Linked DNA regions of Homo sapiens. Each later gene encodes a partner of the first gene's protein in a complex. Each region holds a gene or a part of one and is shown on either strand. Other genes may lie near its edges. A codon is read from its position in the direction of its gene.

Region 1 (7,028 bases):
ATGCCTTTTCCCAAGGAGAGAAGGGAGTCCTACTCCCAGTTGGGACTGTCCAGACTGTGGTGCTAGAGGTGGTGTGGGGAGCAGGAGGGTCATTCCCATCTCTGGAATGTGGATCCCGAGGGGTCAGAGCCCAAGGCCCACCCCAGACAGACCTCTGTCTCCCTCAGACACTGACCACTACTTTCTGCGCTATGCTGTGCTGCCGCGGGAGGTGGTCTGCACCGAAAACCTCACCCCCTGGAAGAAGCTCTTGCCCTGTAGTTCCAAGGTGAGGCCGCAGAGCCTGGCAGCCGGGGGCGGGGGGTGTATAGAGAACCTGCGCCCCATGCCAAGTGCTCCATACAGGGCTTCTCTTATCTCTTTCCATCTCCTCCAGGCAGGCCTCTCTGTGCTGCTGAAGGCAGATCGCTTGTTCCACACCAGCTACCACTCCCAGGCAGTGCATATCCGCCCTGTTTGCAGAGTAAGTCATGGGGAGTAGAGGAAGCTGCCATCCAGGGGCTCAGAGAAGGTACATGTAAAGCATGTGGTCAGTGTCTGGCTCAGGCTGAGTGAGTACTGAGTGGTAGATGTGATGACGGTTATTCAGGGCATTGGCCAAGCACCAAGAAAACAGTGGTTGCCTAGCAAGCACTGAATAAATATTTGTCATGGAAAATAGTGGTTCAGAACAATAGCTATGCGGGTGCAATTGCTAGCTCAGTCACTTGCCAGCTGGCGTAACCTTGGGTGAATCATTTCATTCCCCTGAGCTTGGTTTCCCACCCTGCCACATGACATTGATAGTAGAATCCACTCCTAGGGTTGTTGTGATAGTTTATCAAACTGATGCACATACAGCTGTCAGCACGGGGTCTGGCACGAGGTCAAGTGCTCAGGAGTGGGTGGTAGCAAATCGATGGATGTGAAGATACATAGATGAGGGATTGAGTCTGAGTAGGAGTCTTTTTGGGGGCTGTGTGGTGAGAGTGATACCCCCTCACTGCTGCCATCTGGCCCTTGTGATAGAATGCACGCTGTACTAGCATCTCCTGGGAGCTGAGGCAGACCCTGTCAGTTGTATTTGATGCCTTCATCACGGGGCAGGGAAAGAAAGGTAAGTTACCTTGGCAACTCATCTGTACCCACCCATGCCAGCCCTGCCTTATCTATGTGGACTAGGCCTAGGCCTGGCCCCTGCTCAGCCCTGCGCTCTGTTTCTCAGACTGGTCCCTCTTCCGGATGTTCTCCCGAACCCTCACGGAGCCCTGCCCCCTGGCTTCAGAGAGCCGAGTCTATGTGGACATCACCACCTACAACCAGGTAACAAGGTCTCCAGCCACACACACAAACACACCGCTGGTCCCCAGGACCAGCCTACCCTCTCTGCTTGCTTCTTAGCCCTGCCTTTGTGTCCCCAGGACAACGAGACATTAGAGGTGCACCCACCCCCGACCACTACATATCAGGACGTCATCCTAGGCACTCGGAAGACCTATGCCATCTATGACTTGCTTGACACCGCCATGATCAACAACTCTCGAAACCTCAACATCCAGCTCAAGTGGAAGAGACCCCCAGAGAATGGTGAGTGGGTGGTTGGTTGGACTGCTGGGTTGCAACGGCTACAGAGAAAAGACTCACAATCCCACGTCTTTGCCGTTAGATGATTGGGTTGTATTTAGACCAGATTTCCAGAGTCATATGCTGCTGACTGTAGCTATTCCAAGCTCTACGATTTTGGGTAGGTTCCTAAACTCCCCAAGCTTCAGCATCCACATCTGAAAAATAGAGTATACTTAGCAAATTGGATGAGATGATGTGAAAAATGGAGTTAGTTCATGCATTTGCTTAATCAACCAAATACTTTTGAATTCATACTAAGTGCCAGGCATAGAGTGTTGAATAAGACAGAGGACACTGCACTCAAGAAATATAAGTCTACTAGCTAGGGCAGGTGTCAGTTAATTAATTACAGTTGTGTTCAGTTCCCTTACCAAGGGAAAGAGCAGAATATCCTGAGAGGACCTGGATTGGGTTCGAAGGGGGCACGGTGTTCGTCACGTAAGCACTTCAATACTAGCAACCTATTGTCATCATCGCTTGTTGGCTGGGGAAGACAGGGATGATTCCAGAACCCAGATTGCCCAGTTTCAGTGGCAGGGCTGTTCCCCATCTACTCACTGGCTTGGGACTCTGAACATGGCCTGGGCAGGTGGGGTGGGGAGTGATTCTTACCTTTGGCAGCTGTTAACTGTTGATATTTCTTTACACAGAGGCCCCCCCAGTGCCCTTCCTGCATGCCCAGCGGTACGTGAGTGGCTATGGGCTGCAGAAGGGGGAGCTGAGCACACTGCTGTACAACACCCACCCATACCGGGCCTTCCCGGTGCTGCTGCTGGACACCGTACCCTGGTATCTGCGGCTGTATGTGCACACCCTCACCATCACCTCCAAGGGCAAGGAGAACAAACCAAGTGAGGACCTGAGTCCTGAACCAGGCCCCCAGCCCGCCCTCTCATGTCCTCTCCAGGTCCCCCAAACTCTCATTTCCCAGGGTAGTTCCTGAAGTACCTCTGAAAAGCTACACAGGCATAAAGAGTAAGGAATAGTTTCTCAAAACTGGAACGGGAGCCTCACTGTGCCAGGTTCAGAAGTAATTTATAAAACAGCAATAATTAAAACACATAATACTGGTGATTCTTAATAGGACTGTACAAGGACAGTAGCTTCCTTTTTCACTTACTTTTGCCTCCTTTCTGGAGCATTGGGTTTTGTGATGATTCATAGACTCTTTAAGGTAGGGAAAGGGTTTGGCAACGTTAGGCTTTTGAAGCTAGGAAGATAGCAGAGCTGGAGTAGATGGTGTTTTGCTTCCTTGGGAGGGGTAAAGAGGTACAGTTAATTAAATTTTTTTATTTCTATTTTTATTAAAATTTATTTTTATTTTCTATTATTTTTCTAAGGAGAAGATAATATTAGTGCTTCCTATTAGGTGCCAGGCATAGCACTAAAGCACTTGCCTTTCTTTGGTGTAGGGGGAGACTAGTAGTAAAGTAAAAGACCTCTGAGGAAGAGGTTGTACCATATCCCAAACGGCCAAACTTAAAAACCTTTCAGTACTTTAGTTGATTCCTATATTTTCAAACATACGGTGAATAGTTTCACTTATTTTCAGCACCATTATTTGTACCACCTTCAAAATCTCTATTTCAGACATCCTAACTGCATATTCTATAGGTTTTTCTGTTATTATTCTTTTAAATCTTCTCCTTTGGAAAATTTCAAACCCAAACCCAAACAGAATAGTGTAATAATCCCCTGTACACACCCTGCAGCCTTTTTTTTTTTTTTTTAAGAGACAGACTGTTGCTCTGTCAGCTATGCCGGAGTGCAGTGGCATGATCATGGCTCATTGCAGTCTCAGACTGCTCGGCTCAAGCAATCCTCCTACCTCCGCTTCCCTAGGACTACAGGCATGAACCGCCATGCCTTTAATTTTTTCACAGAGGCAGGGTCTTGTTATGTTGCACAGGCTGGTCTCAAACTCCTGGCCTCAAGCGATTCTCCTGCCTCAGTCTCCTAAAGTGCTGGGATTATAGGTGTAAGCCGCTGCCTGCTGGCATATCTTAAAGCAAATCTTAGACATTGCATCAATTAACCTTTAAATACTTTAAGGATTTTTAAAAATGTAACCGTATCATTACCACTTCTGTTTTCCCCTGTGGTCTTAAAAATGTCTTTTTATAATTGGTTTGTTTAAATTGGGATAAACAAGGTTCTCACATTGCATTTGCTTTATACTAAGTTCCTCTCTTGGGTGGGCACAGTGGTGCACACCTGTAATCTCAGCACTTTGGGAGGCCAACACAGAAGGACCACTTGAGTCCAGGAGTTCGAAACCAGCCTGGACAACATTGTGAGGCTCCCCCTACCTATACAAAAAAAATTTTTTTTTTTTTTTTTTTTTTTTTTTGAGACGGATCCTCACTCTGTCACCCAGGCTGGAGTGCAGTGGCGCGATCTTAGCTCACTGCAACCTCCACCTCCCGGGTTCAAGCGATTCTCCTGCCTCCACCTCCCGAGTAGCTGGGACTACAGGCGCGTGCCACCACGCCTGGCTAATTTTTTCTGTTTTTAGTAGAGATGCGGTTTCACTGTGTTAGCCAGGGTGGTCTCGATCTTCTGACCTTGTGATCTGCCCGCCTTGGCCTCCCAAAGTGCTGGGATTAAAATAAATTGTTTTTAATTAGCTGGGGGTGGTGTTGCACGCCTGTAGTCCCAGCTACTCAAGAGGCTGAGGTGGGAGGATCACTTGAACCCAGGAGGTCAAGGCTATAGTGAGCCATGATCATACTATTGCACTTCAGCATGGGCGACAGTGTGAGACCCTGTCACGAAAAAAAAAAAAGTTTCTTTTTCTTTAAAATTACTAGACTATTCTTAGAGCAGTTTTAGGTTTACAGAAAAACTGAGCACAAAGCACAGAGTTCCCATATACTCCCTGTCTCCACACCCAGAATGTCCCTTATTATAAATGTCTTGTCTTTGGTGTGGTACTCTTCAGTCTCTCTTCATCTGTAGCAGTGCCCATGCCTTTTTTTTTTTTTTTTAATGTCATTTATTTGTTGAAGAAACTGGGTCATTTGTTGTGTAGAATGTTCCACATTCTGGGTTTGTCCTTGTGCTAGTGTTTAACACACCCCTCCTCTCCTATATTTCTTGTGTGTTGGTGGTTAGATTTAGAAACCTGATTAGATTCATGTCCCACATTTTTGGCAAGAAAAATTCCCAGGTGGTTCTGTGAACTTCTTCTTGCGTCACATCAGGCACTTGGTGTCTGGTGCCCCAGTTGTAGTGATGTGAAGATTGATTAGCCATCTGCAGCACTCCTAACAACCTCTCTTGATCGCATCCTGGGATCACTGCCCTGGAAACATCCTCTCCCTTTTCTTAGCCCCTGCTTTCTTCCCTTGCCTGCCTGGCTTCTATGCTCCCAAGCCCATCTTCTAGGCACCCAGATTGAGGCTCCATGGCAAGCAGCAGGGACAGGGGCAGCAGGTAGCCTGACCCCAGGAAAGAGATGTGGGTGACCTTGCATGTCTCCAGGTTACATCCACTACCAGCCTGCCCAGGACCGGCTGCAACCCCACCTCCTGGAGATGCTGATTCAGCTGCCGGCCAACTCAGTCACCAAGGTTTCCATCCAGTTTGAGCGGGCGCTGCTGAAGTGGACCGAGTACACGCCAGATCCTAACCATGGCTTCTATGTCAGGTGGGCTCCACCCCCACAGGCCACCTCTCATCCCCCTGACCTACCCTTTCTGCTGCTTACCCCTTGATAGGGCAGCCAGATGGGAACACGGGCCATCTCTCTGCTTCTCTGTAGCCCATCTGTCCTCAGCGCCCTTGTGCCCAGCATGGTAGCAGCCAAGCCAGTGGACTGGGAAGAGAGTCCCCTCTTCAACAGCCTGTAAGTGTGACCACACTCACTGATAACACATCCTCAGCTGCCTGCTGGGCCTTAACACAGGTGACCAGGCTCCTGCAGGGGAGTTCAGGGTAGATGTTACATCTTCCAAAGAGATGTGTAGATTTAATTCAATCCTAATAAAAATCCTGGCAGTCTGTGGAATTTGTGAAGACTTTATAAAATGATTTTAAAGTGCTTCTAGAAGAATACTTTTACTTACAGCCTACATTTACTTCTTGATGCTCTTAAATATTTAATCAAGCACTTATCAAATGCCAAGTGCTTCTGAGAGCACTGAGTGTGCAAGATTAAACAAAACAGACTTGGCCCTGGCCTCCCTTTGCTTACAGTCTAGAAGGAAGATTCTGGTCTAGAGAGTAATGGGGTTAGAGGTTGGGTAGGAATTGATTTACTGGGTTATCTAGGAAGGCTTCATTTAGGAGGTGGCATTTAGGCTGAAACCAGGCTAAGAAAGAAGCAACCAAGCAAAGGCGGGGCCCCTTTCCTCCACCTCAACACCAGGCGTCTCTCTTTCTTTCCTTTCTCTCTCTTTCTTTCTTTCTCTTTCTTTCTTTCTTTCTTTCTTTCTTTCTTTCTTTCTTTCTTTCTTTCTTTCTTTCTTTCTTTCTCTTTCTTTCTTTCTTATTTATTTTTTATTTTACTTTAAGTTCTGGGATACATGTGCAGAACATACAGGTTTGTTACATAGGTATATATGTGCCACGGTGGTTTGCCGTACCCATCAACCCATCATCTAGGTTTTAAGCCCCGCATGCATTAGGTATTTGTCCTAATGCTCTCCCTCCCCTTGCCCCCCGCCCGCCGCTCCCCTTTATCAGGTTTAGAGATTGAGCTATGCCTTCTGTTGAAAGGTTTTGAGCCTAAGAGAACATTGGAAACACTGTGTTGCATTGCCCAATACTGCCGGAATGAGGATGGGGTGAGATGGGGAGGAGCAGCCAGTCCTGTCTCACCGCTCTTCCCCTGACCCCAGGTTCCCAGTCTCTGATGGCTCTAACTACTTTGTGCGGCTCTACACGGAGCCGCTGCTGGTGAACCTGCCGACACCGGACTTCAGCATGCCCTACAACGTGATCTGCCTCACGTGCACTGTGGTGGCCGTGTGCTATGGCTCCTTCTACAATCTCCTCACCCGAACCTTCCACATCGAGGAGCCCCGCACAGGTGGCCTGGCCAAGCGGCTGGCCAACCTTATCCGGCGCGCCCGAGGTGTCCCCCCACTCTGATTCTTGCCCTTTCCAGCAGCTGCAGCTGCCGTTTCTCTCTGGGGAGGGGAGCCCAAGGGCTGTTTCTGCCACTTGCTCTCCTCAGAGTTGGCTTTTGAACCAAAGTGCCCTGGACCAGGTCAGGGCCTACAGCTGTGTTGTCCAGTACAGGAGCCACGAGCCAAATGTGGCATTTGAATTTGAATTAACTTAGAAATTCATTTCCTCACCTGTAGTGGCCACCTCTATATTGAGGTGCTCAATAAGCAAAAGTGGTCGGTGGCTGCTGTATTGGACAGCACAGAAAAAGATTTCCATCACCACAGAAAGGTCGGCTGGCAGCACTGGCC
Region 2 (7,028 bases), about 11 Mb from region 1:
AGGGAGCCTAGAAGCTCAGCCCACTGTCTCTTCAAGGAGGCCCAGAAAGGAATAGGGATTTGCCAAGGGCCCTATACACCAGACCCGGAGTCTGCAATCCCAGTCAGCCCAAGCTTCCCAAGACCACTGGTCCCTGGAGCAGGTTGGGCAGGGCCCAGCCTCAGAGAAGGATGAGGGGACAGGGGCTCACACTACAGACACCGCAGCTCTCAGGCACCTGGAGGCCTCAGAGGATTGGCACCAACCACCTGGCACAGATGGGGAGACTGAGGCACAGAGCACTTGGCTATGGTCTTGGGGCAAGACAGGTTGAGCTAAGCCTGGGATCTAGACCTCCAGACCCTGTCCTGGGCAGCTTCTCACTGACCTGAAGGTAACACAACAGCAGCTAAGGAGAGATCAGAGGCGCCTGGAGGAGTTCAGGAAGGTGTCCTGTCACCAGCAGCTCTGATGGCCTCAGGACAAGTACCTGCCATTCTATCACCACAGAAGCCCATCTGGAAGGTTGAACAATCCTCATCTTAAACAGATGGGGAAACTGAGACTCAAAGGGTTCAATGGTTGGCCTAAGGCTACACCTGGAGCACTGGACTAATGGCCATGGACCCAGAAAGGTGGTCTGCCTGGGGCCCAGATCACTGATGAGCACGAGATTGGTCACAGCGTCAGCAAAGCAGACAGAGCTCAGGCAGCCCCCGAGGCCCTGCCCCCAGCTGCCCAGCTGGCAGCTCCAGGCTGGCCCACTGGGGGGCAGTGATCACAGCAAAGGCTGACCTCATACCCTGCAGCCCTTTCTCACCCAGGCCCGAGATGCCATCTGGGCAGGAGGAGCCCAAAGCAGGGGCTGAGCTCAGAGGCTGATCCCTGAACCAGGTCAGCTGAGGGGCAGGTGCAGTCACAATCCACAACAATCAAAACGAAGCAACTCCATGTCACACAATAATCATCTGGACAAGAAGCAGGAAGAAAAAGATTAGGTTATTAGGTTGGACCATATGAAATTGCCAGTTTTGCAGATAAAAAAATGGTTGAATACTGGCAATTTCATATGATCCAACCTAATATAAAACGGAAAAACGTACACATGGAAAAGTAAGCATGTTATTTAGAAGTACCAACAGAAATAACAGTAAGACTTTAGGTAGCTATTCTTTTCCCCTATAAGCCTTAACTTTGCAAACTACATACATGTATTCCATTGATAAAAATAAAACTTCGGCGAGGTGCGGTGGCTCATGCCTGTAATCCCAGCACTTTGGGAGGCCGAAGCAGGCGGATCACCTGAGGTTGGGAGTTCGAGACCAGCCTGACCAACATGGAGAAACCCCGTCTCTACTAAAAATACAAAATTAGCCGGGCATGGTGGCGCATGCCTGTAATCCCAGCTACTTGGGAGGCTGAAGGCAGGAGAATGGTTTGAACCTGGGAGGCGGAGATGCGCCATTGCACTCCAGCCTAGGCAACAAGAGCGAAACTGCGTCTCAAAAAGTAATAATAAAAAATAAAGCTTCAATTAAAACAAATCAGCCAATAAATCAATGAATCAATACATCAATGGGGGGGGGGAGATAAATCTTCCTTCCAGAAGAATTCCAAACAATGTAGGTAGTTATATCCCCCTCCCATAGAAGGAGCTTAATTCTTGTCCACTCTGCATCTCCTAAGCCTAGGGGGGTCTAGACTTGGTTACTCACTTCCTCCTGAGGAGCAGGGAAAGGGAAAAGAGTAACTTTACAGTGGAGAGACCTGGCCAACACTATCTTAACCACGTGGTGGAGGTTAACATCAGCTTGAAATCACGTGGCTAGCATGTAACCCCAATAGATGTGATGAGAAGGGCACTTTGCCTGGGGTATTCTTTCTAAAAACCCACAACCCCAGGATAGTCCTAAGAAAAGCATCAGACAAACCTAAACTGGGGGACAAACCTAAATTGGGTGACATTCTACAAGATACCTGGCCAGCGCTCCTCAACTGTCAAGGTCATGAGAAGTCAGAAAAGACTAAGAAGAAAAGCAGAAGACACTGGGGAGATGTGACCTTACATGTAATGTGGACCTCTCGATGGGGTCCTGGTAGAGAAAGAGGCTGTGACTGGAACAACAGGAAATCCAAATCCATTCTAGTGTTTCAGACTAATAGTAACGTATCAGGGTGAGTGTCTTAGTTTTGACAAACACATCACGGTAAAATATAAGATGTTAACAACTTAGGCAACTAGGTGGGGGCTTACAGGAACTCTGTTCTATCTCTGCAACTTTTCTATAAATCTAAAGTGATTCTAAAATAAAAAGTTTATTTAAAAAATAAATGAACTAGCTGGGAATGGTGGCTTGTGCCTGTAATTCCAGCTACTCGGGAAGCCGAGGCAAGGGGATCCCTTAAGCCCAGGAGGTCGACCTGGGCAACAGAGCAAAACTCCAGCTCTTGAAACAGGAAAAAAATTAACAGCAATGACCTATTGTTGTATGTAACAAACTCAAAATATTTTGCTGAGTGAAAGAGAGCTTTGGCAAATGTACACAAAAGATTTGCACTTTTCCCTGTATAATAAATTTTACATAAGAAAATGATACACATGCTGAAATATTTAGCAGGAAATGTACTGATGTCTGCATTTCAATTTGAAATACACTAAAAAAGTAAGATGGACTGAGGGATGATGGAAGAAGTACCTGAAGATGTGAATGGTGGACTCCCGCTGGTGGGTATGTATATGGGTGTCCAATGCTAAAGCTGTCAACTCTGCTGTGTGTGTGGAAATCTGGAGGATAAAGGGGGTGGCGGGAAGAGCCCTGTGAGCGGCTTGGGCACACAGCCCTGGGTGTCATCAGTCCTGAGTGAGCACCCTGCCCCCAGGGAGAGGACACCAGGCTGGCCGAGAGGCCTGGCCCTTTCAGAGGGAAGCCTGTAGCCAGGACAACCTCTTCTGACCTTGGGGCTTTCCATTTGGGCCGTGAGGAGAGCAGGGATTTCCCAGAGGCCCTAGGGTGCAGCCAACACAGCAGCTGCAGACCCAGAGCCCCTTTGCCCAGTCTGGACAGGGGCGAGTTGGGCAAGGGGCTGTGGAATTTGCATGGGCGAGTCAGCGGCTGTGTGATATTAAGTCTCTTCCTGTCCCCTGGGCTGCATTTTCCTCATCTGGAAAATGACAGTAATAGGCTCTAGCTTGTTACCAACAATGCTGGGCTCCTCTAGTTTTTTTTTGAGACGAAGTCTCGCTCTGTCACCCAGGCTGGAGTGCAATGGTGTGATCTCAGCTCACTGCAACCTCCGCGGTTCAAGTGATTCTCCCGCCTCAGCCTCCCGAGAAAGCTGGGACTACAAGCGTGCGCCACCACCCCTGGCTAGTTTTTTCTTTTTTTGTATTTTTAGTAGAGACGGGGTTTCACCATGATAGCCAGGATGGTCTCGATCTCCAGACCTCATGATCCGCCCACCTCAGCCTCCCAGTGCTGGTATTACAGGCATGAGCCACCGCGCCCGGCCGGGCTCCTCTAGTCTTTGTGCCAGTTAGGACCCCAGAACATGTCACTCTGTGTCCTCAGGTCTCTGGATCCCACCCAATGTGGCTGAAATACTGCCTTGCCAATCCCCTTCTCAGACTTGCCCTCTTCTCTTCCTGCAGCCACCTCTCTGGACACACACACACACACACACACACACAGGTGCACACACACGCACACTCACACTGCTCACACATGCACACACAGGTGCACACACATACATGCACGCTTGCACTGCTCACACAGGCTCGCACTGCACTCACACACAGGTGCACACACACAGGTGCACACATACACGCATGCTTGCAATGCTTAGACACACATGCTTGCACACACACATGCTCGCACTGCTCAGACACGCTCACATTGCACTCACAGGTACACATACACGCACACAGGTGCACACATACATGCAAGCTTGCAATGCTTAGACACACATGCTCACACACACAGATGCACACACATACACGCACGCTCTCACTGCTCACATGCTCGCACTGCACTCACACACACACAGATACACACACATACACGCACGCTTGCCTGCTCAGAAGTTCCCTGGCTCCCCCTGCCCTGCCCAGCAGCGCTGCAGCTCCCACCTATCCCTCAGAGGCTCATCTCCTGCCAGGAGTCTTCTCTAACCCTGCATTGTTACATGGACCCTGAAGTGAAGTCACTGCCCACTGGCCTCCCAACCAAATGGGGCTGCATTTGCTCCAGTTCTATGGCCCCAGGCCCGGCACAGGGCCAGCTCTCTCTGAGTTGTTTGCTGGTCTGTACCCTCTCAGCGCTGCCCCCAGGGACGGCTCGGTCCACATTCCTCTCTATGGCAGCCATGAGGGCTCCAGGGCCGCCTCCCTCTGGGACCATGATGAAGAGCTCATGGGGCAGCTAGCTGATAAAGGGGTGACCAGGGACAGACAGGATGAATCAGAAGTAGAACGAAACCCTCAGAACATGCTCTAGTGCAGGGCAGGATGGAGAGACAGGGAAATGAATATCTTCTGAGTGTCTGCCCTGGTCCAGGCCCTTTAACAAAAAAACAATATTGTCCCTTTCCAACCCCCCAGGGTAGGGCTGACAATGCCTACTTAGAGAAGGGAAGCTCAGGGGTTATGGGCCCTGCAAAAGGTCACATGGTAGGAAGTGAAGAGTTAGGGGCCAGTCCTGCCTGTCAGAGGCCCAATCCTGAGTTCTTCCACAACCCCCTAGGGTCTGCACCCACATGAACTGAGTCCTGCTACATGCCAGGCCTGTGCTGACACCTCAGGTACCTTTACACCCTGCGGAGTCTGCTCTCCCCAGTTCACAGCTCTGTCACTCAGTGGAGAGAGAGAGAGATTGACTTTTTTTGTAAAAAGCCAGTAGAGGTTGTTAATACAGTGTGTCTTGAAACTACTGGGCTCAGGACAGCAGCCTTGTCCACCACCAGGGCTGCAGATTCCTAGAGAAGCAGGTGCTATCACCCAGGCATGTCCTGGTTCCCCAGGCCTCCTGCTGCTGTTGGGGACACAGACACTGACATTTGACAGTCAGCCCACGCTGGGGGGAATGCATGTGGCCGTCACAGTTGGCAAAGTGCAGCAGCCTCTGCCCACCTGCCTGGGATCCAGGAAGCTGGGAGGCAGAGGAGGCTGGCGGCCGACTGTGGAGCTGGACAGCACTTTGGCGTAACCTGGCAACCCACAGGCCGGAGCGGACATTATGTAGGAGGAAATGGTGGAGGAGAAAACTCCACCCTCCAGCTCTGAAGATGCAAAGTAACAAGTGAAATCTCTGGACCTCAGTGTCAGGGTCTGAGAGGTCACAAGGTGAGACTGAGGATGAGGCTACAAGTAACTGTCCCTTACATGGCACTTTTCACTTACATGGCACTTTTCCCACATTCAGTCCTCAAAACCACCTTCCCAGTTTGAGGAAACTGAGGCCACCACCACCTCCCCCAGATTTCAACCTCCCCTAGCCTCGTCCCTGGTGCCCTGGATGCCAGGCTCACACCTCTTACCTCTGCTCTTCCCAGCAGTGAGGTTTTCAGAGCATGGATCTGATCACATTTATCCTCAGCTCTTAAAGCCAAAGGTGCAGTCTGGACCTCTGCATAAGAGGCCCTTGAAGGCCTGTGGTCTGACCACTGCTGTCTGAATTGCCCTCATTCCCTCTCAAGTGGTACAGCCAGTCCCACTGAGCTCCCAGCAGCACGGTGTTCCTCCTTTGCTCCCTCCTTCCTCCTCTCTCTCTCTCTCTCTCTCTCTCTCCCTCCTTCACCCCCACCCAGGTCTTGCTACCTAAAATCATAGAACCCAGTTAGATCCTACCCATCCCTCAGGACCCCACTTAGAGGCCACCTTCCCCAGGAAGCCTCCTTAACAGCCCAGCTCTGGGCTCCCAGCTCGTCAGGCTGCCCTGTCCTGCCCATGTCTTTTCCTTTCTCTCCACAGACCGAGGGCTCCTTGGAAGTACACCTCTGTCTCATTCACCCCTCGCAGAGTGCCTGGTGAATAGTAGGAACCTAATTAACATTTGCAAATAAATAAATTAGCTTCCCAGGAGTTACGGGATGTGCCTGAGGCCAGCGAGCCAGGACAGACAGGGCTGGAGTCGCTATAGAGTTTGGGCTTCCAGAGCCCTGGCCTTCTGTGGCCTTTGTCCTGCTGTATGTAGCCTGGGCTCTTCCTGTCACTCTGGTTGTTGGGGAGGAGAATAGGCTGGGAAGGGCCTGTGAGGGACAAGCTTGGGATGCTCAGTGCTGGAAGGACAAAGGAATGAACTAAGACCTTGACAGAATTACACTAGTTGGGAAAAGCAAAGTAAACACGCACATCCAGCAGGATGAGGACAAGGGCTCCAGGTTGGCCACAGGCACCGCATATCGGGAGCAACGAGCCTTCCCACACACAGACCTGGGATCTTGCACAGCCCAGGCCACACACAACCGGCAGGAAGAAACCTGAAATGGGTCTCGAGCCAACCCCAAATGGGGGCTACACACCACTCAGCCACTAATGACCCACCCAACACGTCTCCAAGCATTTCCTCATAGGTCCCATTTCCCAGAATGACACACCAGGCCAACTGAGAGGCAACTCCGGGAGACAGGATTGTGGTTTCACCTGTGTTGCAGTGAACAGTGAGTCCCAGGCAGGGGACAGGCAGCATGCAGGAGGTTGGTGTCAGACCTCGGGCTTCAGGCCTCACTCAAAACAGAAAGGAGAATGGCCAATGCAAGGCCAGCCCAGTATCTGAGGGTCTGCAGTACAGGGAGGGGTCAGGGCTGGCCCCTCATGGCAAATAGGCAGTGGCTTGAGGAGTAGGGTTCCAGATGATCCAGATCCTGCTTGGAAGGGTGGGTGGTTGGCCAGGTGCGGCAGCTGACACCTGTAATCCCAGCACTTTGGGAGGCTGAGGCAGGAGTTTGGCTTGAGCTCAGGAGTTCGAGCTCGTAACAACATAGCAAGACCCTGTCTCTACCAAAAATTTAAAAAGTAGCCAGGTGTGGGGGTGTGCCTGTAGTTCTAGCTACTT

Evidence for each region.
Region 2: the proteins of PIGT (region 1) and PIGU are in contact, whole or in part, in a cryo-EM structure (PDB 8IMX), measured with the Homo sapiens proteins. Residues at the interface, in NP_057021.2 of Homo sapiens: Tyr361 (codon at 2,303), Gly362 (codon at 2,306), Leu363 (codon at 2,309), Gln364 (codon at 2,312), Lys365 (codon at 2,315), Arg394 (codon at 2,402), Leu395 (codon at 2,405), Tyr396 (codon at 2,408), Val397 (codon at 2,411), His398 (codon at 2,414), Tyr416 (codon at 5,100), Pro418 (codon at 5,106), Ala419 (codon at 5,109), Gln420 (codon at 5,112), Asp421 (codon at 5,115), Arg422 (codon at 5,118), Gln445 (codon at 5,187), Glu447 (codon at 5,193), Leu450 (codon at 5,202), Leu451 (codon at 5,205), Lys452 (codon at 5,208), Trp453 (codon at 5,211), Thr454 (codon at 5,214), Pro518 (codon at 6,514), Thr519 (codon at 6,517), Pro520 (codon at 6,520), Asp521 (codon at 6,523), Phe522 (codon at 6,526), Ser523 (codon at 6,529), Met524 (codon at 6,532); in NP_536724.1 of Homo sapiens: Glu30, Lys42, Arg43, Val45, Glu46, Ser49, Leu50, Leu53, Val55, Ser59, Gly60, Ala61, Val62, Pro265, Asp266, Leu267, Pro269, Leu273, Trp275, Tyr276, Phe277, Phe278, Ala279, Glu280, Met281, Phe282, Glu283, Phe289, Phe293, Asn296.

What each region holds. Positions count from the first base shown.
Region 1 is NC_000020.11:45,419,128-45,426,155, forward strand, and holds part of PIGT (GPI-anchor transamidase component PIGT isoform 1 precursor), read left to right. Parts: intron 1-167; coding exon 168-268; intron 269-345; exon of another isoform or gene 346-376; coding exon 377-463; intron 464-1,008; coding exon 1,009-1,096; intron 1,097-1,204; coding exon 1,205-1,302; intron 1,303-1,400; coding exon 1,401-1,566; intron 1,567-2,255; coding exon 2,256-2,456; intron 2,457-5,088; coding exon 5,089-5,254; intron 5,255-5,368; coding exon 5,369-5,452; intron 5,453-6,382; exon of another isoform or gene 6,383-6,446; coding exon 6,447-6,699; 3' UTR 6,700-7,028. UniProt on the Homo sapiens protein: Component of the glycosylphosphatidylinositol-anchor (GPI-anchor) transamidase (GPI-T) complex that catalyzes the formation of the linkage between a proprotein and a GPI-anchor and participates in GPI anchored protein biosynthesis.
Region 2 is NC_000020.11:34,562,069-34,569,096, forward strand, and holds part of PIGU (GPI-anchor transamidase component PIGU), read right to left. Parts: intron 1-7,028. UniProt on the Homo sapiens protein: Component of the glycosylphosphatidylinositol-anchor (GPI-anchor) transamidase (GPI-T) complex that catalyzes the formation of the linkage between a proprotein and a GPI-anchor and participates in GPI anchored protein biosynthesis.